Homo sapiens: one gene and its partners. The protein of the gene in region 2 interacts with the protein of the main gene of each other region in a pairwise test. Each region holds a gene or a part of one and is shown on either strand. Other genes may lie near its edges. The genes, in order: REL, TCP11L1, PRXL2B and PLEKHS1.

Region 1 (7,565 bases), on a different chromosome or scaffold from region 2:
CAGTGAGATTAATATAGCAATTAATAATGGATTTTAACATTCTGTTTTTTTTATAACAGCAGACTAAAACAAAGATTTTTTTCCTCCTAACATTAAATAACAAGACCGAAATGTTATCTTGGAGATTGGCTGGGAGAGGCACCTTTTTTTCCCATTCAAATTGAGTCCCTATGTAGTGTCAAAACAAGTCATTCAAACCATATTGACTGGTTAGCACTTTATAGCTTAATATCTATAGCTAACGTCAATATGAAGTTCTGAGATAACCACTTCAGAGATATCTGCCTCCCACGTGAGACCTAGCAGAAGGGTTTCCCCCAAGATTCCCCAAGAAGGGTAAAGAAGGCAGTATTCAGAAGTAAAATATCACACTCCTAAAGTGAGTTAAATATATTTAACTGCTTGATTTTACATCATATTCATAATACTGAATGAAAAGACCATTCACTGAAAATGAAAATGCATTTAAATCCTTGCAGAAGCATATGTAAGTTTTTTATATCTCCATTCAAATATTAAAGGACTTACACACAGTATATCAAAACAAGCCCCAGGAGGGACTTTAGGCTCAAAGAATGTGCAATCAGTCCCATGCAAACCTTTTCTAAAGACATAATAGAGAAAAAAAAGTATTCACTTTCTATAATAACTAAAATTCAAAATATGCATCTGCAGAATGAACTGCTGCTACATATAATAACATGGACGACTCTCAAAATGATTATGCTGAGTGAAAGAAGTTAGACCAGAAGAGCACATACTGTATGATTCCATTTATATGAAACCCTAGGATATGTAAAGTAATATACAATGAACGATAGCAGATCACTGGTTGCCTAAGAACAGGGATATATGGTGGATAGGAAAGGCAGGGGGGACATTATCTTGTGATGATGATTCCAGGGTTGTATACATATGTCAAAACTTGTCAAATTGCATACTTTAAAAGTACAGTTTGTTGTACATAAATTATATGTCAATAAAGCTATTTAAAATGTATGCAACTTTACTTTTATTATCCAAATTGTGGGGGAAAAGGTAAATAGACACTCAACTGTACTTGCAAGTAGGGGAGTTAATAGGGGTGTGAAGATGTTTTCCATTAAAAAATAATAATAATGTGTCCCTTAATCACTTTAGTGCTGACTAAGGCTTATCCTGTTAGAACGCAAGCAATCCTGAGAAATGGTAACACAGTGGGCCTTATCAGAACAGTATGGAGAAGAGGCCTTTAGAATCCTACCCCAGCTACTTCTTAACAGTAAGACCAAGGAAATGTGATTAAAATTAAAAATCTCTTAGTTTCCTCCTCTGTAAAATAGGAATAATCATAATAGCACCTACCTCATTGGGTTGTTGTGAAGATGACAGATTATATGTGCTAAATTCTTACGAAGTGTCATATATACATACACATTCAATAAATGTTGTCTACGTGAAAAAATGCTCATCATCACTGGCCATCAGAGAAATGCAAATCAAAACCACAATGAGATACCATCTTACACCAGTTAGAATGGCGATCATTAAAAAGTCAGGAAACAACAGGTGCTGGAGAGGATGTGAAGAAATAGGAACACTTTTACACAGTTGGTGGGACTGTAAGCTAGTTCAACCATTGTGGAAGTCAGTGTGGCGATTCCTCAGGGATCTAGAACTAGAAATACCATTTTACCCAGCCATCCCATTACTGGGTATATACCCAAAAGATTATAAATCATGCTGCTATAAAGACACATGCACAAGTATGTTTATTGCGGCACTCTTCACAATAGCAAAGACTTGGAACCAACCCAAATGTCCAACAATGATAGACTGGATTAAGAAAATGTGGCACATATACACCATGGAATACTATGCAGCCATAAAAAAGGATAAGCTCATGTCCTTTGTAGGGACATAGATGAAGCTGGAAACTATCGTGAGGACAAAAAAACCAAACACCGCATGTTCTCACTCATGGGTGGGAATTGATCAATGAGAACACATGGACACAGGAAGGGGAACATCACACACCAGGGCCTGTTGTGGGGTGGGGGAAGGGGGGAGGGAAAGCATTAGGAGATATACCTAATGTTAAATGACAAGTTAATGGGTGCAGCACACCAACATGGCACATGTATACATATGTAACAAAGCCGCACGATGTGTACATGTACCCTAAAACTTAAAGTGTAAAAAAATAAAAAATAAAAAAAAATGGTGTCTATTATTTCAGATGCTTTCTTGAAAACAATGATTTAGTGATACTATGGTGGTATCCCAACTGTCACTCTAAAGGACCTTATAGAAGAGCAAGGCAAACAACATATATTATTAGACTACAGAAGGAAGGAAAGCACTAACAAAATTCTGCGGAAATAAGAGCGAAAGAGTCAGGAATGCCCAACTGTGTCAGTGGAAAAAGAGCGGTTAATGAAGCAAAAGAGCGGAGGAAATGAAGAGGAAAAAGGTAGGTATTCTAGGGAAAAGGGAACAGTGTGTCCACAGAGGAGGGTTTATTTAAGAATCACCAATGTAAATGGAACACACTTTCTCTCTTAAAAAGAGAACTAAAAGTCAGAGCACACTTGGCAATGTGGATTTCATTTTATGTGTGATGAAATCAATGAATATTTTGATGCAGGCAAATCACATGATCAGATTTGCATTTTAGAGTAAAAGTTTTAGTCACAGTGAACAGATAGAAAAAAGAAAGCAATGTCATCAGTTTAGAGACCACTATAATAATGTGGGCAATGATGAGGGTATCTCTGATATATGGCAGTGATAAGATGAATGAAGGATTATTTAAAAGATAAAATTGACAGCACCTGGTGCCTGAACAGTAGGGTTAAGAGAAATTAAAGAATCACTGATAGCTCAGAAATTAAAGAATCATTGATGATTCCATGGCTTCTACTTTGGGTTACTGAATAAAGTATTACTGTAACTTTCAATTTTATTCTGTATGGTGTAAACTCCCTGTGTTTGAATCTACTACCTATTTGTTTATTCAGAAGATGAAGAGCCAGAGAAAACTGACTTTAACCTAAACAAGTTCATAATCCTTATTTCAGTTTTACTCAAAAACATAAGATATGCAGATGAGTATTTCACGATTTTATCCTTGCATATTTTAAAGATTTCAAATTCACATTGCAATTTCAAATATTTCATACCCTTATATATCCTTGTAGGAGTATTTAAGAAAGTATATTTTCCTCTTAAAAACTGTTAAAATCAACATTACTTTTTAAGTCACATTTTAAATAATTTATGTGGCTGAAGTAAAGGCCAAATAAATCCCTGCCCACTACTTATTTAAAGGTGTCTTGGTGGGAAACTGATATAAAATGACATCGTTAATGATAAGTGTTTAACTTTGGGAAGAGAGAGTGTGAATAAAACTGCTAGGTTCATAGTGAGCATTCAAATATTTCACTGAGGCTGGGCATGGTGGCTCATACCTGTAATCCCAGCACTTTGGGAGGCCAAAGTGGGTGGATCACTTGAGGTCAGGAGTTCCAGACCAGCCTGGAAAACATGGTGAAACCCCATCTCTACTAAAAATACAAAAAATTAGCGGGATGTGGTGGCAGGCACCTGTAATCCCAGCTACTTGGGAGACTGAGGCAAGAGAATTGCTTGAACCCAGGAGGTGGAGGCTGCAGTGAGCCAAGATTGTACCACTGCACTCTAGCCTGGGTGACAGAGTGAGACTCCGTCTCAAAAAAAAAAACAAACAAAACACAAAAACAACAACAAAAAAACCCAAAACTTCATTGGTTACATGACACTTCTTTAGATTGTTTACAAAAAGAACAGAAAAGTAGTTGTTGAAAAGATTAAATATTTTTAAATAGTAAAAATTACATAAATATCAGTTATCATATAATATTGAGTATTTAAAGTCCTTGGAATTTATTTTTCCTACTGCAGAAGCTCTTAATTGGTAAAAATTAACAAGCTGGGGGAATGTAGAGTATTACAACCAAGTAACACAGTATACTGTAATACTCTACATTCCCCCAGCTGGAAATAATCTCCCCTCCTTTAAACTACCATAGTATTCTGTGTATAGCAATTATTCCAAATAACTGTAATTTAGGGAAAACTTACCGTCTTATTTCTTCTTGAGATAAAGCTACTTGTTTTATTTCTTCAAGCTACTTGAAGGCAGAAATTGTGTTTAACTCATCAGTGCCTTGTACAGAGATATTCATTAAACATCTATTGAATGAATGACTAAAAAATCTTAAGGTCTTTTGTTTATACAAGTTATTCAAACGTTAAATAATCATATAAGTGATTAGTCAGATTTTTTAATTAGATTCCACTACTAAGGAAAAAAAAATAGTGCTTTATAGGTACCAGGATTGCTACACCTCAGTATTTCCTCATACTCATTCCTATTTTGATTTATCTGTGTTTATGATTTTTAAAAAACTTCCCAGCTATAAATCATTTATATAATGCATCAGTACAATGCACCAGTTATCTCCTTCCTCAGTACTGTGCTTTGCACAATGCCATTCTTCCTGAATATAAAATGTGTTGAAATGTAGTCATCTATGGAGTGCAAGAGGGTAAAACATAAATCAGGAAATTGTAGGGAAAATAAGTACTCTTAACTAAGATAACCTCAAATCGCCACAGTTTTGAAAAGCACCAAAACGTCTCCAAAATTGACTCTAAACAAATTGATTACTGTATTTTTCTTTAAGCAACACTATGCAAAGCTGGGACTGACCCCTATATTCTGAATAGTATTTTAAAAGGCTAATATACATCAGAATAACTTCTAAAATACAGCCAAAATGTTTGTAAGATATATCTATGTTTTTATTTGCGCTTAGGCAAGAAAGAGTGCTATTTTAAAACATAGTGCCTATCTAATAAAGCATGAGCTTTTAAAATAAAAAAATTACATTGAAATGTTTAAATGGATCATAAATTATCGGAAATAGACACATTATTAACAAACACTTTATTGCTAGAATTAGCAACCAGCATCAAGTATACAGAAAAAAAAGCTAATTATTGTAATTATAACATTATTTTAAGACCCCTTTATATACATTTCTCATTTGATCCTCTTAACTTTAATCTCCATTTGAAAAATAATAGAAATTATTATCCCATCTTACACATGATAAAACTAAAGTTGAAAATTATATGAAGTTATAATAAAAATGAATTATGAATGGTATGCTAATATGGCAGTGCCAAATTTAAAAAACAAGCATAAAAGCAACTGGAGGTAATAACTGATACAGCACATAATCTGCAATCTAAAATAAATGCAACTTAATTTAAGAAGATAATGCATCCTGGTATAGCCAAATGAGTATTTAGATCCAAAGAAATCCCTAGAACAGAGTTCATACTGGGGATGTACATCAGAATCACCTAGGTAGTTTTTTCAAAACATACATGTCCTTACCCCACTTGAGATGTTTAGAAGATAAAGAAATCTTCATAGTTTTTAAAGCCCAGATACACGTTGCTGAAAAAGCCTTCCAAGAAATTCTAACACACTCCTGATTAAGAATAATTGTCTTAAAACATGAAGTGGAAGCAACAATGCACATATTGAGAGAAGTAATCTAAAAATTCAGGTACAAATATGGACTGGGACGTGAGTAAATTAGGCAAAGCAATTCTGGCTACTTGTAACTTGAACTTGTGTTTATCTCCCACTTAAAAAAGAACCTTATTCAAATGCAAGCAAGAAAAAATGACAATATAGAGATAACCTTCAAATGCTTTCATTTATTTAAAAAGTAAATAATTTACAACACAAATATTTTAACTCTTGCAACACATCACACAAATGATTGTCACACCAGTGTGTCAACACCACAGTTGAGAATAGCTGACTAGACTGCATGTCTCTCATAAAGGTCCTCGGTGACAGACTTTGCCTGAGACCTAAAGGAGCCAATGGAGCTAACAATATATATTTTTCCAAATATCACCTCTACTCAATTTGGAGAAAAAGAAAATAAGATCTATTATTTTTTTCCTCAAACTAGGTCTCTCATCAGCCAAAGGCTATGCCAATATATCAGGCTGACTTTATTACTCCAATACATCAGGCTGACTTTCAACTGGGCCTTAAGAATCAAAGAAAGGAAATTTTCAGATGAGTATTCAACTGATTTATGCACTACAAGGTAAAAACTGTAAAAGATTCTGGCAATAGGGATTCTGTTACCAAGGGGGAAAAAAGGTAAGTCTTGAAAAAACTCTTGCACGTGCCAGGGTAAAATAAATAAATTTTAAAAGCTGTCCTAGATTATACAGGTATTAAAGTTAAAAACAAATGGCAAGACCAAATCACCTCTGTTTTAAAAATAAAAACAGAGGAGGCCCAGATAAATATGAATTTCAGAAAAACAATTTTATCCCATGCAATATTTGGGTCATGTGCCTACAAACAAAATCATTTTCAGAGAACCCATATGAGAGAAAGTTGGAACAAAATGAAATTCTGAGTCCCTTAAATTGTATTTGAGAAAGATACTATGCATAACCTAGATGTTCCTAATTATGATTCATTGTCTGGCTCCTCCCTAGTCATTACATTAACTCATTCCCTTTATCTGTGCCTATCATACGTCACCTTAATTATTTAACTCCATTGTTATTTCTATTTTTTCATGTGTTGCATTTCTGAAACATTCATGCTCATGTGTGGCATTTTACTTAAAAAAAGAAGTCATTTACTGTAGCTATCCATTCCTAACTTCCAGCTCTGTTATTAAAGATTAAGTTGCCTCACACTTACTTCCATTTCTCCCCTTTAATCGAGAAAAACAACAATTCTCTTGAAATTCACACTACAAATAGTTGGTAAGAAGTGAGGTTTACAAAAACAATTCATTTCTGTACTTCCTTCCTATTGTGTGACACAGAAGAACCATACTAAGAAAAATGTGAAGAAAAATAAATTATCTAAATTTTAAAACATTTTACCAAAGACAGCACTAATTATTAGTTAACAGAGCTATATGCCACACAAAGACATTTTGCTCTTTTTACTGGAACAATGAGAAGGTTTAAATTCAGACATAAAATATCTAATTTTACTTATATTAAATAGAATAAATATACAAAAGCAACAACTGCCTACTATGCATACCTTAGATGGGTTTGGGAACATTTTTCTTCACTATATCTATTATTAATTATGTCAAAAGACTGTGATCAAGGTGTAATTTTTTTAAAAAGCAACGAAAGGCAGCTTAATACAAGCTGTGAAATCCTAATTAATCTGCTAACTTATCTAAACAAAATTTAGAATCATATTATATACATGATTTTAAACTACATTCTAACTTACATAATTTTGCTTATAAGATTATGATTTATGTTACTTTTACATTATAGCTATCACATATTCAACTACATATACCTATTTACATATGACATCTGGTAAGAAATGAAGAAATGCTCTTAAATACTTCGTAATGAATAAAAGTTACTTTCTGAGGTTTTAATACTACCTTACTACAAACAGAATCTAAACTAGACAATGAAAAACTAAGCAATTTCTTTTTTTTTTTTTTTTTGGTCACTCT
Region 2 (8,071 bases):
CTGATTTTTGTATTTTTAGGAGAGATGGGGCTTCACCATGTTGGCCAGGCTGGTTTCGAACTCCTGACCTCATGATCCACCTGCCCTGGCCTCCCAAAGTGCTGGGATTACAGGCGTGAGCCACTGCGCCTGGCCTAATTTTGTATTTTTAGTAGAGACGGGGTTTCACCATGTTGGTCAGGCTGGTCTCGAACTCCTGACCTCAGGTGATCCACCTGCCTCGGTCTCCCAAAGTACTGGGATTACAGCCATGAGCCACTGCGCCCTACAGAAAACAGAATCTTATGAAATGTTTAAGAGGAATGTGTGGGGCAAATATTTTTATTACCTTCTTGCCAGTAATTAGGAAAAAGATTGTGAGTAAGAAGCTGCAAACAACCATAATGTATGCAGTTGGGTGGGCTTTTTATTAGTTGCTGATCAGAATAGCAATAACACTTGACACTGTGCTTTGGAGCAGTTAATAAAAGGTCTGCCTGGGCCTCCCAAAGTGCTGGGATTACAGGCATGAGCCACCGTGCCCAGCCTAAAACAGGCCTAAAACAGGCGGATCATGAGGTCAAGAGATCGAGACCATCCTGGCTAACACGCTGAAACCCCGTCTCCACTAAAAATATTAAAAAATTGGCCTGGCATGGTGGCGGTGCCTGTAGTCCCAAATACTCAGGAGGCTGAAGCAGGAGAATGGCATGAACCCGGGAGGCAGAGCTTGCAGTGAGCCGAGATCGCACCACTGCACTCCAGCCTGGGCAACAGACTGAGACTCTGTCTAAACAAACAAACAAACAAACAAAAAAACCCTGTTTTAATTACAGTAAAAGTTTTAGTCAATTCCTCCACTCTCCCTTTTCCTAGGGTGTTTCTGGGAGAGAAGACACAATGTTTCTGCATTTGCTGAAAATAATTAACATTTGTAACATCAGCACTTGAAGATCACAAAACATTTTCATAAACACTAATTAGACTTTCTTACACACATGGAAGGTAATCAGGTGATCAAAAGAAATGTCAACTGATTTAGGGAGTTTGGCAGACTGTGTTCTGCATATTAGAGAGAGGTGAAGAATCACCTGATAGAATTATGTGAAATTTCAGAGAACTCCATTAAATAGAATGAAGTTACTGGGATTGAAATATTCAGGCCTGTTTTTTTGTTTTTTTTTTGGGGACAGACTCTTGCACTGTTCCCCAGATTGAAGTGCAGTGGCACCATCTCGGCTCAGCTCACTGCAACCTCTGCCTCCCAGGTTCAAGGGATTCTTCTGCCTCAGCCTCCCCAGTAGCTGGGATTATAGGCGCCCACCACCACGCCTCGCTAATTTTCGTATTTTTAGTAGAGATGGGGTTTCACTATGTTGGCCAGGCTTGTCTCGAACTCCTGACCTCTAGTGATCCGCCCGCCTCAGCCTCCCAAAGTGCTGGGATTATAGGCGTGAGCCACTGCACCTGGCCCAGGCCTGTATTAATATGAAAGTTGTTTTCATGTATTTTCCCTTTCGAGACCCATCTTAGCTTCCAACACCCCACTGGAGACACCCATCTCCTCTGTGTCCTAAATCCTATTAGGGTCAGGAAATGCTCCAAGATCCAAAGGATAACATTACCAGCATATTCTGTGAGAAACGACAAACAAAACGCTGCTAATTTTATTATCTTCACATGCTGAGAAGGAGCCCAGGAGGGATGAAGTAATTCATTCTGTGCAGTGAGGAGGAAAGGGAGGATTTCTAGGTCTCTAATGCTCAGCTTAGTAAACTAACCCCATCCTTAAGATTGAGTTCAAGTCCTGTCTCTTCCCAGGACACTTCCCGGACCTCACCAGTGATTGCACCTTTCTCAACTCCTGCAGGGCTGGCTAGTTGACATTTGGCATTTGTCACTGCCTTAAATTCAATTCAAAGCGTGCTTATTTAAATAGAAAGATGCAAATACATAGTCTAGAGGGGGAGGCAGACAGGCTTACAAGGAGCCATAATGAAACTTAAGTGGCATTATGAAATTGCCCAGGGAATATAGCAGAGGAAGAAACTAACTCTGCCTGGGAGGAGATTGAGAAAACCTTCCCAGAAAAGATGACATTTGAACTGATCTTTAAAAGGAGTAGGATTTCACCTAGTTAAAACATGTCTGGAGGGGGAGAGGAGGGGGAGAGGAGGTGAAAAGGAGGGCATTTCACTCAGAGGGCAGAAGCCAAGGCACAAGAAAATGAGAAAAGGAAGTGGCTAGAGATGATGGAAAGATGCGTTGGGGCCAGATGGTAAAAGTGCTAGTTTTTATTTTAAAATTCCCCACCTAGATTTCGAACTTCTTAAGAGCCAGGACCAGTCATATTCCCCACTTATGCTCCATCTGTATATCCCCCAAATAGACACCCACAAGTATCTGTTGATAGAGATGAATCCCTACGTCATCTCTGTGATGTCACTGTATCTGGGAGGCTGGGCGTTGGTTTCAGACATACCTGGGCCCCAATTCTGGCTCTTTACTAGCTGTGTAACTTCAGTGTCCTCCTCTGTAAAACACAGCTACCTACCTGCTCGGTTTGGGGGGAGATGAAACGAGGGATTGTGCACGGCAGGCCTTCTACAAATGGTAACTCTAATTAAAGGGCTCTAGGATGCGGCCACGAACCATTTAATTTGCTTATATCGCGCGCATCCATTCAACCCCCACTGTGTCTAAAAAGAGAGCCGAGGGGAGGAGGATCCTCGCACTTGCCAAGAAGACGGTCATCCGTCGGCGCTGCACGCGGGCCTAGGCTGGACACAAGAGGCTCCCCAGCAGAAAGGGTCTTTCGGCAAAAGAAAAAAGGGGCTCTGTCCCCCGGCGCCGGGAATCCCCTCCTCTGGCACTGAGCTCCACTCGCGCCCGGCGTCCGGATTCCGTTGTAAACAGCTGTTCAGGCCAGCGAGGGAGTGGCAGGGCCGGGAGTAGGGGAGGACGCGGGCGCGCCGAGAGGACAGCCTCGAGGGGTGAGCTCCACCCGCCCGCGGACCCCGCCTCTTCCTCGCCTGCCCCCGACATCCCGGGATGGGATCCGACGGGAAGAGGCGAAGAGATGCCTGCGACTTGGACCGCGCGCCTCCCGGACGGGCCCCGCCAGCCTCCGCCCCAGCTCCCGCTCTCACCTGCCACGGAGTCGGCGTTCTCCCTCCTGCCGCTCCCGCCGCGAATCAGGCGCGGGCTGGCGCCGCGGCGGAAGCCGGAGGGATGCGCGGCAGGCAGGGGCGGTTCAGCCTCTGCCCCTCCGAGGCCGCATCCCTCGCCACGCGGCGGGCGGTCCTCCCAGCCCGACTCGGGTGGGCAGCGGTCAGAGCGGCCGCTTCTCAGCATCAGGAAGGAGGAGACTGCTCTTGGCCGGGAGGCGCCAGCCCAATATAGGGCAGCGCCATGTCTTCGTACGGAAAGGCGGGAGGGTCTTTCCCCTGCTTGCCGAAGGGGTTCAGTAAGCGGTGACTCGCAGCTGGGCGGCGCCGTGTTTCCTCAGGGAGAGGTGGAAAACATGGCCGATGACCGCTCAGGGGGCTCCGTGGCCAGTGGCTCCCAGCCAAGAGTCGCCCGCCGCACGCAGTGAGGCGCCATGTTTTCGTACGGAAACGCGAGAGGCATGGCCGAGTGCCCGCCGATGAGTCTCAGCTGGCGGTGGCTCGAAGCTGGGGATGGCCCGCCCCTAGGCGCCATGTTTCCATACGGAAAGACGGAACGCGCGCCGCATCCCAGCCGCTGGTGCGGGTGACGCGAGGAGAAAGGGAGGCGGAGAAGGCGCGGGTCAGTCAAAAGAAGGAATAAGAAGCCATTGCATCTGAAACCTTCCCCGCCCGTTCTTTGAAATTTAATTTTGCCATCCTGTTTGTAGCTACACAAAGTTTATTCCCCTTCTCTCATTTCCTCAGCTTTAAAAAAAAGTTAGTCCGGGCGCAGCAGCTCACGCCTGTAATCCCAGCACTTTGAGAGGCCGAGGCGGGCGGATCACGAGGTCAAGAGATCGAGACCATCCTGGCCAACATGGTGAAACCTCGTCTTTACTAAAAATACGAAAATTAGCTGGGTGTGGTGGCGCGCGCCTGTAGTCCCAGCTACTCGGGAGGCTGAGGCAGGAGAATCGCTTGAATCTGGGAGGCGGAGGTTGCAGTGAGGCGAGATCGCGCCACTGCACTGCGGCCTGGAGACAGACCGAGACTCTGTCTCAAAAACAAACAAACAAAAAAAAACTACAAAAAAGCAGATGGGGTGACATTGGTGCTTTCAAACACTGCTTCTAAATAGATCACATGTGGGTAGTTATTGCTAACGTATTGAAGGCCGAGTGCAATACCAGACCCTCAAACCATTTACTAACTTGCACATTAAAGTCTTTGCTTTAAAAAAAAAAAAAAAAAGACAAAAACAGAAGTTCTCTGGTGAAGATTCACTTTTTGGAGGAAAAAACACCAAAAACCCTTAAGATACTCAACTAAATGGAACTGTTAAGATCTACAAAGAATGGCTGGGCGCGGTGGCTCACACCTGTAATCCTAGCTCTTTGGGAGGTCGGAGGTGGGTGGATCACAAGGTCAGGAGTTCGAGACCAGCCTGGCCAATATGGTGAAACCTCGTTTCTACTAAAAATACAAAAAAATTAGCCGGGCATGGTGGCATATGCCTGTAATCCCAGCTACTTGGGAGGCTGAGGCAGGAGAATTGCTTGAATCCGGGAAGCAGAGGTTGCAGTGAGCCGGGATCGCACCACTGCACTGCAGCCTGGGTGACAGAGTGAGATTCCGTCTGAAAAAAAAAAAAAAGATCTGCAAAGAAAACATGCAGTTCTTCTGAGTCTAAACTCGTACCATTAAGTCTCTAGTGTTTTTCAGCCCTGACTACAAATACAACTTGGAATCTCAGGGGCAGGGGTTGGAAAAGTATCATCCAAAACTCCGGGGAGGGTGATGCCAGACAAGTTTTAAAAGCTCCCTGGGGAAGCAGGCTAGAACCTTCCTTAAAAGATTAATATGGCTGGGTGCAATGGCTCACGCCTGTAATCCTAGCTCTTTGGGAGGTCGAGGCGGGCGGATCACCTGAGGTCAGGGGTTCAAGACCAGCCTGGCCAACATGGCAAAACCCCGTCTCTACTAAAAATACAAAAATTAGCTGGGCATGGTGGCAGGCGCTTGTAATCCCAGCTACTGGAGAGGCTGAGGCAGGAGAATCCCTTGAACCCAGGAGGCAGAGGTGGCAGTGAGCGGAGATCGCACCCCTGCACTCCAGCCTGGGAGACAGCGAGACTACATCTCAAAAAAAAAAAAAAAGGTTAATATAACCAATTTTCACTTGGTTAGGAGCAAGTGAATGAATATACTCAAGTTCCACCTGGAGAGGATACTGCAACAATACCAAAATCACTGATTTAATTTGGGATATTTCACTTGTAATCTTTTAATGTTTTGTACTGTTTCAATATTCAAAAAATACATATAGACACATTCCATTTTGATCTTTGGCTGCAAGGACTGGAAATTCAAATTACGTTAAGGTAAAGGGAGTTCACTGCAAGGACATAGGACTTGGAGGGAGAAAGGTGGCAGCCACTCTAGAGGTCGGCTACTGCTCCTGTACACACAGGATCCCTCTTGTCACATCTCTGCTTGCTGTAGTCCATTCCACTCTTTATGCTACAGGCTGGTTTCTGTACTTTCTTAATTGACGCGCCTCATAATTTAAATTTACCTATATAGAATTTGATTGGCCAAACTGATTTTTGAACAAAGTTAGTCTCATTAGCCTCCAGGGAAGCTGCCCTTGGATCAGGTGCTCAACCTTGGTCTACTCTGCTAGGATGATGGCAAGACTTACGGTCAACTAGGCATTAGGTGTCTATGTGGGAATGGGTCCCCAAGAAGGCGTCATGGGTGAATGAATGAGAGCACACAGCAAAAGATAATCAACAGTTCTAGTGACTGAGGAGGGTTGCCCAAGGCTTTCAAGGTAGCACTGGACCTGTAGTTTAAAACCTTGACAATGGTTGCAGTAAACATGATCGATTTTTCTTTTTATCCTCCTTATAAGGCCTAAGGTAAATTGATTTTACTAGTATATTTTCCCTGAAATTATCATTCTATTAGAATGTTGCTTCTCCTAGAAGCATGAATGTAACTAAGCAGTTCTGCCTTCCCCTGAAGGTTGTCAAATAAATATGCTATTCAATTATGTGCAAAATAAAGGTTACAAATCAGATAGCACACGGTTGCTCTGCCCACCGTGCTGATCTCACCACAGTTCCAGTAGCTTGTTTCTGAAAACTTCCTCTCACATTTAAATCATAAACTTATCTTCTTTTTCCCCTCACTGTAAAGAGAGCTGCCTTCCCCTTTTTTTTTTTTTTTTTTTTTTTTTTTTTTTTTTTTTTTTAAGAGGGAGTCTTGTTTTGTCGCCCAGGCTGGAGTGCAATGGCACGATCTCGGCTCACTGCAACCTCCGCCTCCTAGGTTCAAGAGATTCTCCTGCCTCAGCCTCCCGAGTAGCTGGGATTACAGGCACCCGCTACCACGCCCAGCTAATTTTTGTATTTTTGGCAGAGACGGGTTTTCACCATGTTGGTCAGGCTGGTCTCAAATTCCTGACCTCAGATGATCCACCTGCCTCGGCCTCTGAAAGTGCTGGGATTACAGGCGTGAGCCACCACGCCCAGCCCTTCCATTCTTACCTATCCAAAAAAACGGAGTTATTCCCTGAGTTATTAGAACTGGTATCATAGGTATTTTATAGATATTAGTCCTCAACCTTTATCTACTTAGACTAGGCACTATCAGTTATACCTAAGGGGGAAAAAAAAACATTACTGACATACTAACATATTGGTGCATCATTTCAGTTTTCCCTACCTCTCATTAAAGTCAGTTAAAAGACAAAATTCAGTATTTAATCTTTTGGCTCTATTACTATTAGGATGAACAACTTCAAACTGTATTATATTGCTTGTCTATTTATCAAATACAGTTGACCCTTGAACAATGTGGGGGTTATGGGCATCAATCCCCCTGCACAATCAAAATTCTACATATAAGTTTTGACTCCTCTAAAACTTATTAGACTACTGTTGGCCAGAAGTCTTACCAATAACAGTCAATTAACACACATTTCGTATGTTACATTATATATAGAGTGTTTTTTGTTTTTTGTTTTTTGTTTGAGACATGATCTCGCTCTTTCACCCAGGCTGAAGTGCAGTGGCATAATCATGGTTCAATGCTGTTTCAACTTCCCAGGCTCAAATGGATCCTCCCACCTCAACCTCCCAAGGAGCTGTACCACAGGTGCATGCTACCATGCCTAGCTAATTTCTTTTTTTGGGGTGGGGTGTTAGAGACAGGGTCTCTCTACATTGCCCAGGCTGGTCTCAAGCAATCATCTCGGCTTCCCAAAGTACTGGGATTACCGTTATGAGCCACCGTGTCTGCTCTAAATACTGTATTCCTACCTTAAAGTAAGCTAGAGAAAAGAAAATGTTATTAAGAAAGTCACAAGGAAGAGAATATATACTATTCAAAGTGAAAGTGGATCATCCTAAAGGTCTTCATCCTTGTCATCTTCACATTGAATAGGTAGAGGAGGAGGAAGGCTGGTCTTGCTGTCTCAGGGGTCACAGAGGTGGAGGAGGTGGAAGGAGAGGAAGGAGAGGCAGGAGAGGCAAGCACACTTTGTATAACTTCTGTTTTTAAAAATCCAAGTGGACCTGCGCAGTTCAAACTTGTGGTGTTTAAAGGTCACCTGTGTATCTTCACAGTGCACTCATTCCAAATAATGATTAACTTGGTTAAAAAGGTATTAAAAACTTTAGCTCTAATGCCCAATTTACAAGAACTATAGGATACAAAGGAACATGATAAAGGACAGCCCAGACTTGTCATCAGAAAAATTCAGACTGAGGAAAACTCAAGAACAACTGACCAAGTTTATTTAACAATAGAGACATACACACAGACAAAAAGACAGAGAGGGGAAAGGTGGAAGGAGAAAGGAGTACTTACATTTTTATTTATTTATTTATTTTTTTGAGACAGAGTCTTGCTCTGTCACCAGGCTGGAGTACAGTGGT
Region 3 (7,679 bases), on a different chromosome or scaffold from region 2:
TGACGGGGCAGTGAGGTTACCATCCCCAGTGCCCCACAGGCCAAAGGCCCAAGGTCTCCAGAGAAAGTCGCAGAGCAGGAAGATGACACCTGGGACTCACAGCCACCCTGCCCGCCCTGAGGGCCCAACAGTGAGCAAGGCGGGGGCTGTGGAGGATGCAGGGCTCGGAGCCTGCGAAGCAGTGCGTGGTCAGGAACTGCAGTTTTAATGGCTCGTTGCTGCCGGCGGATCAGGAGAGGTTCGGCATCCCGACCCAGCGCCTCCGGAACAGTTCTTCCAAGTGGACTTCCAGCACACCTAGGGCAGCAGACGCCACCCAGATCCTCGGAGGCCAGGGCCTTCGCCTCCCTCACACCTCTCTGTCACACTGTGGGGACAGCAGGGTCCCATGGGGCCGCTGGACACTGGATCAGACAAATGCCTGGAGGGCCCCCTTGGACAATCCCCAGCCCTCCCAAGGCTGAGAGGACACGCCTCTCTGCCCGCCACCCCATGTGTCGCCCCCACCTCTGAGGACAGTCCCAAGGTGCCTGTCCATCCAGCCATGCTGCCCTTCGGCCCCTCTCAGCCTGCCCCACTCTGCAAGTGGGGTCACAGTGGCATCCATATCCCAGGGCACAATTGGCATGATGCCCACAGCGCTGTGGCTCAGCTCCCAGCCAAGCCGAGTGCTCCTCCCAGGGGACCTAGGGGCAGGGCGTGGGCTGGCAGGCAGCGCCCCCAAGGCCCAGCTCACCTGAGGCGGGTCGCTGGCACAGACCTCCGCAGAGATGCCCAGGACCTGCAGGATGTGCTCCTTGGGGACGTAGTCGCCTGGGGACTTCTGGACGAAATGCAGGAGCACTTTATCACCACCTGTAGCAGCGGGCAGGCAGTCACGGCACCCCGGAGGCCGCCTGCACCTCACAGCCACATACCAGGAGGAGGGAGGGTAGGGCAGCCCTGGCCAGCCATATCCCCCACCCGGCTACCCAGATGAGTGAGCTGTTCTGCCACAGCCCCACTCAGCCCAGCAGACACGCAGAACCAGGCCACATTGCGGCGGAGGGGCTGTGATGAGACTGACAAGCCAGAGAGAGGGCCTGGGCTGGGCCACCAAGTTCAGCAAGGCCCTCCTTGAGGCAGTGGCCGAGGCCCCTCCCTCGACCCACCTTTGCTGACCACCAGCAGCCCTCCGCTCTGCAGCAGGTCCCCAGACAAGTTCCCCTGGATGCCAACAGCCTTGGCCTGTCAGGAGTGGGTACAGCCTGAGTCAATCCTAGAAGAAAGGCTCCTGGGAGCTCCCACCACCCCCCGGCCTGTACACCCTTGACCCGCACACACCTTGGCAGCCACATCACGCACGGGCTTCCCCAGAGCTGCTGGGAGGATGCTCAGGCTGTTGTACCTGCGAAGACACCAGGTCGCTTGGCCAAACTCCGGAGAAGCCTGGGTCCAGAGCCTGCTCCAGTGTCCATGAGACCAGTTCCTAGGTCAGGCCCCACCCCACCCACCCGCCTCACCAGGGCTCAGAGATGGCACAGGCGACCAGATCAGTAGCCAGCCCAGCCCACCGGCAGGTTGGACACCGAGCCCAGTGGCTGCTAGCCGAGGGTCCACAGAGGGTGCAGGGAGCATGGATGGGGCCCCAGGCTGGGTGTGCCCAGGGATCTGGCTCAGCTGGCAACTGCCAAGCAAAGGAAGCAGCCTGTGGCACAGACACCAGAAAGCTAGGATGGCCCCTGATGGGCCACGAGGCTCCACCCCACGAGGTGGTCTGGACACCGAGAGTAAGCCCCGGACGAGGTGGCTCATTACAGTCACCCAGCACCCAAGAGAAGGCCTGGCAGAAGGGCTGGTCAACAGTGCCACCAGAGCCGCCTTGCCCAGGAAGGCCCGAGTGGACAGCACCACAGAGGGCAGCAGGGAGAGGAGGTGGCAGGGAGCGGTGGGAACCCCTGGGCCCCCCACCCCACGCTACCCAAGGGTTCCCGCCCCCACTCACCGCTTGAAGCCTAGCTCCTTGTAAAGCTGCTTGCTCTCATCCAGGTAGAGCTCTGGAAAGCGGAAGCCACATGTGTGTGCCCCAGGCGCAGAACCAGCCCCCAACCCACTCACCACAAAGAATCGCCCTCCTCCTTCCGACCCTCTGTTCCTCTGCCCACCCTCCGTGCTCAGCCCACCCCCGCAGGGCAGGGAGGGGTAAAACGGGGCTGAGTGTCCCCCCTCCCCTCAGAAGAGGGGCTGAGTCCCAGAGGCAACAGGTGGAGCCGGCGGGGCAGAGCTCGTCCAGACTCTGCTGCTGGGCCCAGGTCTGTGCAGGGCACCACCCAGCCACCAGCTGCGGGGCGGGGAGGCAGGGAGAGATGAGGGACGCTGACCCGTGGGCATATCAAGGCCGCTCCAGCAGACAGAAGGGCCGGGGTTGGGCAGGAAAGGGCCCCGAACGCCCTGAGCTTAGGGAAGGGTATGTGCGCCGCCGCGGCGGGGAACAGGACGCACCTCCCGCGAAGTAGTCGCCGTCCAGGAACTCCTGCAGACCCAGGGCCTCGGGCCCTACGCCCACCAGGCGCACGCCGTGTTGGTCCAGGAGCCCAGCAAGGCTGCTGAGGTCCTGGGCGATCCAGCGGCACACCACGCACCCGAAGCGCCGCAGCCCGGCCACCACGCACGCGTGCTCCCGCCACAGGCTCCGCAGCTCCACGGCCTGCCGGGCGGCTGGGTCATGGGCGCGCCCCGTTGCCCCCAGCCCCGCCCAGGCCCCGCGGCCCCCACCACCCCATCGCTGCCAGGACGCCCGGGCAAGGAGCCAGGGACGCGCCCACCGCCCTGCGTCCACCCGGCCTCACCTCCCCGGTCACCGCATGCTTCAGGATGCACGCGCCCACGCGAGCAAGGTCCACCGTGCTCATGGCGGCCGCTGCCAGCCCTGGTTCCCGGCTCCCCGACTCCCTGTTCCCCGCTCCCGGCTCCTCGCTCCTGGATCCCCGCTCCCGGCTCATAGATCCAGCCCCAAGCCCCGCCCCGAGATGCCCCGGTCCCGCCTTTCTTGCTGCCGCCGAGGCCCCGCCCCTTCGGGCTCGTCTCCGCCCCGGGCCCGCCCCCAAGATGGCCGCAGCGCGCCCCGGCCACGCCCCCGACCGCACCCCGAGCCCTGCTCCGCCCCCTCGGATTCGCCCCTAGTCCCGCCTTGTTTCCCCTCCTACTCCAGGCCAAGCCTCGAGATCGCGGCGCCAAATCCTGGGTCCGCCTGCTTCGGTCCCTCCCGCCTCCTCAATCCGGGCCTTGCGGGACAGTTGCTGTCCCGCGTCCTGGTCCCGCCCCTAGCCCCGCCTCTCCGTTGGGCCGCCGACTTGGACCCCGTCGGCCATTGGCGCAGCAGGCGGAGCTGGGCGGTGCGGCCCTCGGTGCGCGGTGCGCCTGTGCGGAATGCGGCGGGAGGCGGGCAGCCGGCTCGGGGTCGTCCCGGGGGGCGCCGGGGAGCGGCTGGGTACGGTGGGCCCAGGGGTGGTCCAGGGAGCGGCGGGGGTCTCCCTGCGGCCTCGCGCGAGACTGGGCTGGACTCAGGGTTGAGGGGAGAGGGTGAGCGCAGGGGTCGCGGGCATAGGGGACCGCGGGCCGGGGTCTCCCGCGGGGCGGGGGTCCCAGCAGTGGGGGGCGGGGGGGTGCGAGGGCTTAGCCTTTCCACGTGGCCTGGTTTTCGCTTGAAAATCCCCGCAAATGCGGCAGCATCTCAATTATACATGGACGCGATGTCTTTAATCATGAAATACTGTTCATGTCGTGCCGGTTGCATATCAGCTTTTAACCCGCCAAACCTTGGGGCGAAATAGACCCCGGGGAGATAAGCACAGCTCCCAGAAGTGCACTGCGGGTCAGGTGCCTGGCAGATGCGTCCTGTTCCTCCCCCACTGCAGCCCTGTGATAGCTTTTGTCACCGAGTTGGGGTGAGGGCCGGGTCACAGCTTCACCCGGCCTGGGCTCCCACCTGAGCGGGCCCGGCCTGGCAGAGTCTGTGCTGCTGGCACGGGTCCTCACTCCCCAGGCCCCAGGACAGCTCCAGGGGCCTGGGCGGGCTGGAGAAGGAAGGGGGAGCCCCCACACTGTATTCCAAATAAAGAGAGGCCCCGGGGGGGTGCTGCTGCTTCGCCTGTGCCCTCGCCCTGGGGTGGTGAAGGTCCAGACTGCGAAACGGAAGTCGTCACTATGTCAGAAAGGGCAAAAAGCAAAACAAGGAAGGGGAAGCACTAGGAGGGAGGAGCTGTGGCAGCTCCAGAGCCCAGGAGTGCAGCCCCCAGAGACCAGGGCTACCCCTCTACCGTCTCGGGCTGTGCAGGAGGGGCCCTCTACCCTCTGGAGTTGTGCAGGAGGGGGCCCCTCTACCATCTGGGGCTGGGCAGGAAGGGCCCCCCCCCACCGTCTCAGGCTGTGCAGGAGGGGGCCCCTCTACTGTCTCGGGCTGTGCAGGAGGGGGCCCCTCTATCTTCTGGGGCTGTGCAGGAGGGGGCCCCTCCACTGTCTCAGGCTGTGCAGGAGAGGGCCCCTCTGCCGTCTGGGGCTGTGCAAGCAGTGAGCAAGCTGCCGCCTCCTTGGGAGCTGGGATCCCAGACGGGATTCAGCCATTTTCAGAGACGTTCCCAGAAACGAGAATGCGAGATCAATTCCTCGCCTGGCATCTCCCACCAACGCCATCGCTGCAGGAGCCTCACTGGAAGCCAACGGGCAGAGGAGAGTGGGAAAGGAGCTTGCAGCCTCCCAGCTCCAGTGATGCAGAGCAGAAGGTGGCTGGGAGGCTGAGAAGCCATAAGAAAATAGCAGGGCCAGCCCATGTGGCCGCTCAGATACATGCTATGTGTGTGTTTGCATATGTAGGGGCTGAAAAACTCCACCTCCATCCTTTTGAGGTCCTGGCTGGGCCCAAGAGTTAAATCAAGATAAGACAGATCATCATGCCAGTGTATTTGATTAAAGTTGGATGTGGCTCAGGAGCCCTCCTAAGGAAGTGAAGACCCAGTGAAGCAGACTCAGTCGTGTGCTGAGTTGGACAGAGAACAGTGAGGTTTGAGGAAGCAGCTAGATGATGTGGGGGGCTGAAAAGGTGAGAGGCATTTTATCAGGGACTGTACAGCATTTGCTGGGTCTCAGCTTCTCATCCTTGAGGATCAGAGCTTTCTAGTGTAGGGAGAGCATCTTTCACCTGGGAATTTCATCTTCTGCTTTTAAGAAACACAAGAGAGATCAGAATGATCTTTTTGCACCTGTTATTGTTTTAACTGCCTTTAATTCCTAATAGTGACTATGCCAGAGCAGCCTATTTTGGGGTGGCACCTTCTTAACTCTGCATACTGTACATATCTGGCACACATCATTTAAAGTAAATAGACAGGCTTGCTTACTTTTTACTCAAGTGCAACATAATTCAGAAAAGTGCAGACATGCTCAGTAGACAGCTCCTTCTACACGCCTGTTGACTTTCTTTCATCAATGACATATTGGTCGGCTCTTGCTAGGCTGTGTTGCCAAAACAACTCGCAAGCCTGGGTCGATCACAGCAACCAAGTTTCCCCTCCCACTCAGGTTTCTTGTCGGCCACGGGTGGCTCAGCTTCTGATGCCTCCTTCGTTCTGGGGTCCAGGCTGAGCAAGCTGTGGCTCTCTGGAACATGCCGTTCTCCTGACAAGGGAGGACATGGAGGAGAGATGGAGAAACCATGCCACACTCTCCCAGCGGCCATGCACAGCTGGGATGTGTCGCTTGCACTCCCATGTCACTGGCCAGAGCAAGTCACATGGCCAAGGAGGGGCAGGGAAGAGCACTTCCTCCTCCAGGTGGTGCCAGCTCTGGGACTGGGTTTTAGCTTTCCTTACAAAGGAAGAGCTGGCCCGTTACCGCAGCAGGGATGCTGACAGAAGACGTGAAACTCCGGGGTCAGAGACAAAGGACTTTTTCATTCATGGCGTGGCAGGCAGGTGCTCACCTGTGTGTTTGGTCTTATCCCCTTGCCCCCAAATTCCACGGGTGCCATGTGGGTAGGCCTGGGTGGGCACTGCACAGTCAGTAGGTTTGCGTGGCCACTGAGGAGCCCTGCACTGGGGGAGTCAGCTGTTTCTGCAGCAAGCAGTGAGCAAGCTGCTCTTTGTCCCTAGAGGACTCTCAGGGCAAACCACCCTGAGAAATGGGGGAGGGTACTCAGGGCCTGCATTCCTGGCACACCCTGTGAGAGGTGGGGGGCACGAGACACTCGTGGAGGACTGCCCTCTTAACAGGAGAAGCTGCCAGTACCAGAGGCCAAAGAGACTTACCCAGAGATTTCACCGGCATCCCTGGGCTGCCTGGTGCCACATATGTGAAAACAGTCATTTCATGTAAGCTTGTCCACTCAGTAGCATGAAGGTGGGAGGGTGTCTTAGTCATAGATGGGGTGGCTTCTAAAGAACAGAAATTGATTTCTCACATTTCTGGAGGCTGGAGGTCCAAGATCAAAGCGCCGGCATATTCAAGGTCTGGCGAGGACCCCTTCCTGGTTCCTAGATCACTTCTTCATGCTGTGTCCTCACAGGGTGGAAGGCATGAGGGGGCTCTGGGGGGCCTCCTTTTTAAAGGCACTAACTTTGGCCGGGTGTTTTGGCTCACGTCTGTAATCCCAGCACTTTGGGAGGCCGAGGTGGGCGGATCACCTGTAGTCAGGAGTTCGAGACCAGCCTGGCTAACATGGTGAAACCTTATCTCTACTAAAGATACAAAAATTAGCTGGACGTGGTGGAGCATGCCTGTAATCCCAGCTACCCGGGAGGCTGAGGCAGGAGAATCACTTGAACTTGGGAGGCAGAGGTTGCAATGAGCCAAGATCATGCCACTGCCTCCCAGCCTAGGCGACAGAGTGAGACTTCGTCTCAAAATAAAATAAAATACATAAATAAAAGCACTAACCCATTCCCGAGGGCTCCACCCTCACTACCCACCTAAGCACATGCCGAAGCCCCACCTCATAATGTCATCACATTAGGGATTCGGTTTCAGCATATGAACTGGGGGAGGGGGCACAAATGGGGGAAACTGGCTCCACTGTGTGAAAATTGTCAATACTAAGGCAGAGTCACTTATGTCAGGACCCAAGCAAAACGGAGCTGGGAGGCCTCAACGGAAGGTCCCTCATGCTCGGGTGCCTATGATGAGAACTGTTACAGGGACTCCGACAGCACACAACATTCCAGATCAGCTGCTCCTATGAAGACATCTCCCCCGCAACAATCATGTTACCCATGAGTAATCACCAACCCTGCAATAAGCTCCTGTACCCAGGGAGGTTTATTCCAAAACAATCTGTGTAGACTTCCTCTTCCCACCCCTAAAAGAAAGATACACCTACGGTCCCCCTCAGCATGCATATCCCAGATTGCAATCCCCTGCCATCCCCCAGTAAACTTTATTTGGGAGAGCCAGTCTCTCTGTTGTTTATTTTACATTGACAAGTTGCAGCATCGTGGCCAGCAGCAGAAGTCCTACTAGGCTTCTTGAGTCTGTGGGTTGGTATCTTTAATCAGTTTGGGAATTCTTTTATTTTATTTGTTTGTTTGTTTGTTTTGAGATGCAGTTTTGCTCTTGTTGCCCAGGCTGGAGTGCAACGGCTCGATCTCAGCTCGCTGCAACCTCTGCCTCTTGGGTTCAAGCGATTCTCCTGCCTCAGCCTCTGGAGTAGC
Region 4 (7,565 bases), on a different chromosome or scaffold from region 2:
CAAAAATGACACTGACAGGTTAGGGGGCTTGCTTGAGAACACAAAGGAAATCAATGTCAAAGCCGAAAGCCCCAAACCCTGTGATTACTACTATTATTTTCTACTTTTCTTCCCTTTCTCTGAGCTTTCCTTGCAGAGGTGGCTGAGCATTAATTCTAGTGTGCAAATGTGGAGGTGGCGAGGCCATTTAAGCTACTTAGGAAAAATTCTTATTTCGCTGGTACCTGCTCTCACCACCATTCTAACATTCATAAAAGAATCCTTCTCTGGTTCAAAAGGCACTATTGTTGCCACATGCCAACTGAAAGTTTATTCCTGTCAACAGGGAGAAGATTAAAGACTGGGTCTCCTTCATGTCATCATTTCGCCAGGATATAAAAGCAACACAGCAGAACACAGAGGTGACTCCATATCACTAATAAAATAACAGGGCACCTGAACACAACCCTCTTTCAATAGAAAACAATGGTAGCTTTCCTTTGCCTCCTTAGTAACTGGCTTTAATACAAGGAATAAATAAATGAGAAAATGTACATCCTTATTACTTTTTATGATTAACAGAAAAAAATTCTTTTGTGTTTTGTGAGAGAGCTAAAGTACAGACACTTCAGATTTTTATTATTGTGTTAGAGGGAAGAAAAGTTAACTGTGACATTTTTAAGTAGTAGCTAGAATATAGTATTTTCCATCATTGTTATTCAAGGTGCATGACAAGCTCCCTTTTGAATGACTAAGTCTAGGGCAGTTTCTATAAAAATGTTTTACATGTATCTTGCATTTTTAATATAATGTATCTTTCATGTACATGCTTAGCAGTTTTAAGTTTTAAACTTATTTCAAAAGGGCCTCTGCTAATGTTCCTTTCTCAGGGCAGACCTTTATAGATGGAACTTTGGTCCCTAGGTATCTTTTTTTGACATGTTTTCTAGGTTGTTCCATGCTTACAGCAAAAGCCAAAGAGAAGGAGAAATCAAGGCATGTCTTCAAGTAGACTGAAGTGATTAGAGCAAAGGGAACTGGGGTGGAGGGTGTCAGAAAGAGACACAGTTGAGGAGACAAGTTGAGGGAAACGCTGGTCATCTCTGAGGGTCAGGCTAAATGTCCTCAAGGGTTTGGAAACAGGAGAGAGACAAGTTCGGCTCTTGTCTTGGTGAAATAATGCTGGCAGGCCAGCGGCATGAATGTTAGATTGCTATGGGAAAAGACAGGAGGCAAGGAGCCCGGTAGAGAGGCTGCCGTTTCATTCCAGACAGAGATCAACTGTGCCCTGACTGATTCCTTTTTTTGTGAGCAGGAGGAACTCTCATTGGGTAATAAAAGAACCCTCTTCTACTCCAGCCCTCTCCTTGGCCCTTCCAGCACATCAGAGGCTGTTGGCTCCAGCTCACCAAGAAATGGTCTCCAAGACAAGGTAATGGGGCTCACTTCTTTCTCAGGACACCACACCTGGGAGGCAGCTAATGCCTAAAAATCTTACCAATTAGCAATTGAATTTAACCATGCCCACCTTCCTCAAAGCCCGATGCACTATAAGAAAGATTCTTAGCCCTGATGTTTATCCCATACCACAGATGAGCCTCACTGAGGGCTTGCCCTGAATACCTCTCAGTGTATTCATTCATTTTAGATGCTCTTGATATGCTTTGGGTATGCTAGGGTAAGACCCCTTTGCTAAACCAAAACCTAGCTGGCAACTTGCTTCCTTTCTTTCACACAGAGGGCACAGATCCCTCTGCCAAAAGATTTCCCAGACACTACCTGATTTCTGCCCATTCTGTCTGTACTCCTCAGGCAAAGGCTGAGTTTCTTGTTAATCTCTTCCCTTTACCCTGATCAATCTCGCTTCTCATTCATTATAGCTGTCTATCACTTCTTCCTCATTTCTAATGAAATCCATTTGAAGACATAAAATATAATGTACCTGCCTCTTGAAAGCGACTTGTAATTGGACCTTCAGCTTTCTTGGATTTGCAATGTTCCCAACTTGGGATATTAGTCATAAACATGCTGAGTGGTTTTGTTCTCTGGCACGGATACTATTTTGTCTCTTAGAGACTTATCCATTGACTTTACCCTGTCCATGTATACCAAGCACATCTAATGAGTCCTAGTCCCTTGTTTTATCTAGTTGGTAGCTCTCCAACTATTTTGAAAGCTTTTTGTAGCATATCAAATTCACCATGCCAAACACCTCACCTCAGTTCTTCATTTAGCGAGTAGAAACGGTGGTATGCAGCAGTTAGGAAGCTTCACCCTTGTCTGTAAGTGCCTCTTGCTTTTCACTCATGATATCTCCCTCCCCCTAGAGATAACATTATTGGTCACTTTGCCTTTTCACACTATAGATCCAGTGATTTTTAAACCAGCTCGAGTTAACAGTACTGTTTGCCTTGCTGGGTGGTGTTGTTGTTGGTTAAATTAAGTGGGCTGCCTTTACCCCCAACTCAGCATGATCCGGCTCCATGAGCTTGGAACTTAAAACATGGACAGAACTTAAACACACCTGTATTTTAAAACTTGACTTTTTTTCTAGAGAACATTCAGGGTCTTTTCCAAACCCCCTGCTCTGAGGCATTGTTCTTGGAATTTTTCTGCCATGCAAAGAAGCTACTTTAGTAGAATATTCTGTATCTATGGGGAAGGGGAGGCAATAGTGGTTGAATCTAGATCACCTGGAAACCCATAATTCATACTATCATATGATCAACACAACCAAATTCCATTGCTGTGGAAACAATAGAAGTGTGTGAACAGAACACAAAAGAAAAATATGGAGCAGGAACAGGAAAGGTGCAACGCCTTGATTCTGGGTTAATTACATTCTTAGATGGCACTGGATGATTACAGGAAAAAGATGAGGGTAGCAACTCCAGAGCTTAGTGACTTAGAATGCTACCCACAGGGCTGGTCATGGTGGCTCATGCTTGTAATCTCAGCACTTTGGGAGGCTGAGGCGGGTGGATCACGAGGTCAGGAGTTTGAGACCAGCCTGGCCAATATGGTGAAACCCCATCTCTACTAAAAAATATACAAAAATTAGCTATGCATGGTGATGCGCGCCTGTATTCCCAGCTACTCAGGAGGCTGAGGCAGGAGAATCACTTGAACCCAGGAGGTGGAGGTTGCTGTGAGCCGAGATCGCGCCACTGCACTCCAGCCTGGGGGACAGAGTGAGACTCTGTCTCAAAAAAAAAAAAAAAAAAAAAGAATACCACCCACAGGAGAAAACCACTTGTTCTGAGTGACTGTTCCAAACGGTAGAGAAAAAAAGCCTGAGTGATGTGCTTATATGTTTTCATCCTCAGTGGTGACCCAGACTCAAGAGGCAAGTTCAAGTTGTGTGAGCTTCTGGATGTAATCTTGGAAGACCCTCTGGTCTTTTTTAACCCAACTAATTTATTACGGCTTTTCTAGAATGCATGTGATTTAATTCTATCTCTTGCAAAGAAAAAGCAAAGCATTTTTATCTCTTTTCTTCAGCATTTAATGGAACAAAGTTCTCCAGGATTTAGGCAAACTCACCTACAAGATTTATCAGAAGCCACTCAAGATGTGAAGGAAGAGAATCATTATCTTACTCCTCGAAGTGTTCTTTTAGAGGTAACCCCTTCTTGTCCATTCATCATTTGTTTCTTTAACAAATATTTACTGAAACCCTGCCATGCACTTTTCGTGCAATATTAGGCTATGGTCAGTGGGAACACAGAAGTAAATCAAATACAGATGACGTGCTCATGGTGCTGACACTTGACTAGGAGACAGCTGTAATACAAGACAGAGGGTTCTATGCTGAAGAGAGATGCTTATAAAATACCAGGGGTGCATGAGCTATGGGAGGAGGAGATGACTTTCAAACAAAAGATCAGGAAGATTTCAGGGACGAGATGACATTAGGCCATACATGATGAGTAAAATTTGGATGTGGGGGATTGCCTTGAGGAGTCTTTCTGCATTCTTAGCAGAAAGAATAATATGAGCCAAGGTCCTTGGGTGATCAGTTGTGTGCTGTGTATCGATCAGTCTATTGATCAGTAGGAAGCCCTTACTGAATGCCTTCTGAGCACTAGTCACTGTACTGTACTGGGCATGGTGGCTAAAGTAATGAGCCTGACATCACCCTGCTGTCAGAGTGCATAGTCTTGTCAGTTACCACAGGATAACGCTGCACAAAAGACGTGGTCCGTGTGCTCTGGAAGCAATAGAAAAAGAACAGATTTTCTCTATCAGAGTCAAGGAAGGCTTCTGGGATGAAGTGCCATTTGATACATGTATGGGGAATAGTTCAGTGAGGCTGCAACCTAGAGTGCGTGAAAGGCATAGTGGGAGATAAACAGAAGAAAAGGGCCAGCCCATGATGGGTCTTGAATGCCAAGTTGACTTCATTCTGTAGACAGCATAGGGGAAGCGATGGCTTCTGAGTTGGGAAATCTCAAAACCTGAATTATCCTCCATTAGTATTAACTGAGCAGCTATATCTGCCATGGACTATAGAGAGAAGAGAATGGAAGTGAGAGATAGGAAGACAGAATGGAGGGTGGGAATGCTGCGTCATTTCCCAAACTGGGGGTTTTCCGTAAGATGGTGACGTATGTTTATATAAAAGAAACATTCTGGGGTCAAATAAGTTCCGGAAACACCCAGTTAAAATAAGTTAAACAAGCTTCTTAGCAGAATTCTCAGAGCATTTAGTATGCAGTGGTGCATTGTAAATAGTCAAGTCAGATACAACACATGGCATTTCCCAAGCTCCTTTGAGCACAGAGTTCTTCTTTCACCAAAATATTTTCATATTTCTGTTTCCTGGGATGCAGTCTTTTATGATAGTTCAGCCAACCAATCAGATGTGTACTGAGCATCAGTTATAGGCCTGGCCTTTGCTAGGTACTTTATGATAAGTAAAGTCTAGTAAAGCAGACAAAACAGCTAAAAAGACCAAAGATAAATAAATAAATAAATAAGTAAAAAAACTATGCAATGGAAATTGAGAGAAAGGAGAGCTCTGCCGTAGCTGAGGTGATCAGAGTGGGCTGTGGGACTTCAGCCAGGCCTGAACATGATTTCAGTAGGCCGAAAGGAAAGATGGCACTCGAGGTGAAGAAGAGAGCACGAACATGGCGATGGAACAGCACCATTTGCAGGGGGCCAATGGGAAGACTGGCTTGACTGGAAGGAAGGTTTCCATCATGGGTTAACGGTGAACTTAGGTAGGCCTTAGGGTTTTTGAGCAATCATTGCCACAAGTGACTCTCTTTGTTCTAAGGGGGCTATGGAGAGCTTCCTAAGGGCAGTATTTTTCTAGAACATTGCAATGTCCCTGAAGCCACTTGGGCTGCCTGTGAGCATAGTAACCTGAGACCAGCTTCACATTGTGTCAGAGTCTTTGTCCCAGCCAAGTGCCATGATTCTATAGTAGAACTGATTGGGGAAATGCTTTCATGTCATTAAGTGCCGAATGGTGAAACAGAAAGATAAACAGCAATTTAGCTCAATAGAAATAACACTTGTATCCGGAGCATGAGGGATCCAGGAGAAGAAAATTGACTTTGAGTCCTCCAGAAGCTTTGCTGGTTCAGTCTCGCGGAGGTAAGGTTGGTTGATATTTCTCAAATGAGAACCACGTTCATCCACTGGAAACTGTACCTCTATGTCAGAGCCCAGAGCTGTTAATACTAGAAATAAGAAGGTACCTGACTTATCGGTAAACTGGGATTCTTACATCTATTCCTTTTATCTGCAGTTGGATAATATCATTGCTTCCAGTGATTCTGGTGAATCCATTGAAACTGATGGTCCAGACCAGGTCTCTGGAAGAATTGAGTGTCATTATGAGCCAATGGAATCCTAGTAAGTCAAAATGCCGTTTCAAAATTTGATGTTTGCTCATCTGCTGTTAAGGAACAATGATTGTCAGTTCATTTCAATAGTTGATAAACTGATGCCAAACATTACCAGAGACCAGTTTCCACATATTATTCAGTCGTCTCAACACACAAAAAATGAGGGAGTCATGTCTCTTCCCACAGAAAACCACCGATGACATCCTCAGGACCTTTTCCGTCTCCTGAGGAAGTTATCTTCTACTTTGCATTTATGTCTCTCACACTCTCACTTCTGTCCTCCAAACACTGTAAAGGGTAATTTTGATTCCATATCTATTTTTAGAAGGAAAGTTTGTTGAATTTGATGCTAGCTGTGGCTGTGATTCTGATAGTTGGACATACGTCAAGACCTTGCTAGTCTTCACATGGCTGTTAGCTACTTAAATCTGACACACACAGGGGAACACTGTAAAAACACATGCTAAAATAGGGCTTGTTTTAACTTCTTATGCTCTAGTTTTTTCAAAGAGACATCCCATGAGTCTGTGGATAGCAGCAAAGAGGAACCCCAGACCCTTCCAGAGACCCAGGATGGGGACCTCCACCTGCAAGAACAAGGCTCAGGAATTGATTGGTGTCTTTCCCCTGCCGATGTGGAAGCACAGACCACAAATGACCAAAAGGGGTCGGCCTCACTAACTGTTGTGCAATTGTCTATATTAATCAAGTAAAGCTCTAATTTCTAAAACTTGATGGGCCCTAAGAGCAAGGCAGCCTCCCTCCCACTTTTTTTTTTAACTTAGAATTTAAATTTTAAAGCTGTTCCTAAAAATCTCCAAGTCAGCCAAAAACTTGACCATCTTCTCCCTGTCATTGATGTTGTGGCCAAGGAGAGGGGATGATAGATCTCAAGTAAAGCAGTTCCTGGGGCGGGGGGTGGCATTTTCAGCTATTTTTAAAAATTCCCCCTTGGCTACTCTTTCAGGTCCCAGGACTTGGGATCCACACCAATCTGAGTAGCATGTCACTCAGTTTTCCCATGAGTGTAATTATGGACATGCAAGTTGCATGAGACTTAGTTATAGACCAGGAGGGGGTTATTTAGGCTTTAAGTGATACCAAGAGCATTTGGTACGATTGATGTAATTTTAACTCTTTTCCATGCCTTCTTCTATGGAATCATTTCCAGCAGAGAAATATGCAGACTGGCCTGATGTGGACAGTTACATAACCAATTTAGTCCATTTTTCCCTCTGTTCCCATAGCCTACCATCCGCTACCACATCCCAAGAGGATTTTTCAGTAACTTAAATTTATATTATTCTCCAAATGTTTTGAACAACCTTTACCTGGACAATGTCATCTCAGAAATAGAGGCCAAAAGTCTACTCAGAAAGTACAGTTGAGAGCCAAGGTCAGTTGCCTGATGTGACTTTTACAAATGTCTTGTTCATAGTAATATCCCCGATGAAAGCCAAGTGGAGAAACTGAACGTTTTCCTTTCTCCTCCTGATGTCATCAACTATCTTGCTCTCACAGAAGCCACAGGACGGATATGGTAGGTTGGAGATTTGACTGTTGTGGATTATAAATGGGGCTGGAAGCTTTGAAGAGAACAATTACATCTTGAAACAGTGTATTTGGCAACACTGACTAGGTTTGGGGCGGGGGAGCTTGGACTGTTGACTGGCTGTTGTTACAAAAAAATCTTTGAGGCAGAAATCAGGGTCTTGTTGTGCAGAAAAG

The links.
Region 1: the proteins of TCP11L1 (region 2) and REL interact in binary tests that used the Homo sapiens proteins (3 or more experiments, as listed by UniProt).
Region 3: the proteins of TCP11L1 (region 2) and PRXL2B interact in binary tests that used the Homo sapiens proteins (3 or more experiments, as listed by UniProt).
Region 4: the proteins of TCP11L1 (region 2) and PLEKHS1 interact in binary tests that used the Homo sapiens proteins (3 or more experiments, as listed by UniProt).

Annotation. Positions count from the first base shown.
Region 1 is NC_000002.12:60,884,091-60,891,655, reverse strand, and holds part of REL (proto-oncogene c-Rel), read right to left. Parts: intron 1-7,565. UniProt on the Homo sapiens protein: Proto-oncogene that may play a role in differentiation and lymphopoiesis.
Region 2 is NC_000011.10:33,034,850-33,042,920, reverse strand, and holds the start of TCP11L1 (T-complex protein 11-like protein 1), read right to left. Parts: upstream 3,350-8,071; 5' UTR 3,129-3,349; exon of another isoform or gene 2,534-3,128; intron 1-2,533.
Region 3 is NC_000001.11:2,582,098-2,589,776, reverse strand, and holds the start of PRXL2B (prostamide/prostaglandin F synthase), read right to left. Parts: upstream 3,001-7,679; 5' UTR 2,982-3,000; coding exon of another isoform or gene 2,892-2,981; coding exon 2,829-2,891; intron 2,687-2,828; coding exon 2,482-2,686; intron 2,037-2,481; coding exon 1,985-2,036; intron 1,442-1,984; coding exon of another isoform or gene 1,388-1,441; coding exon 1,324-1,387; intron 1,248-1,323; coding exon of another isoform or gene 1,228-1,247; coding exon 1,152-1,227; intron 856-1,151; coding exon 737-855; intron 368-736; coding exon 350-367; coding exon of another isoform or gene 298-349; 3' UTR 1-297. UniProt on the Homo sapiens protein: Catalyzes the reduction of prostaglandin-ethanolamide H(2) (prostamide H(2)) to prostamide F(2alpha) with NADPH as proton donor. Also able to reduce prostaglandin H(2) to prostaglandin F(2alpha).
Region 4 is NC_000010.11:113,768,490-113,776,054, forward strand, and holds part of PLEKHS1 (pleckstrin homology domain-containing family S member 1), read left to right. Parts: intron 1-325; coding exon 326-401; intron 402-1,294; coding exon 1,295-1,411; intron 1,412-3,480; coding exon 3,481-3,600; intron 3,601-5,737; coding exon 5,738-5,844; intron 5,845-6,336; coding exon 6,337-6,546; intron 6,547-7,084; coding exon of another isoform or gene 7,085-7,130; exon of another isoform or gene 7,131-7,275; coding exon 7,276-7,377; intron 7,378-7,565.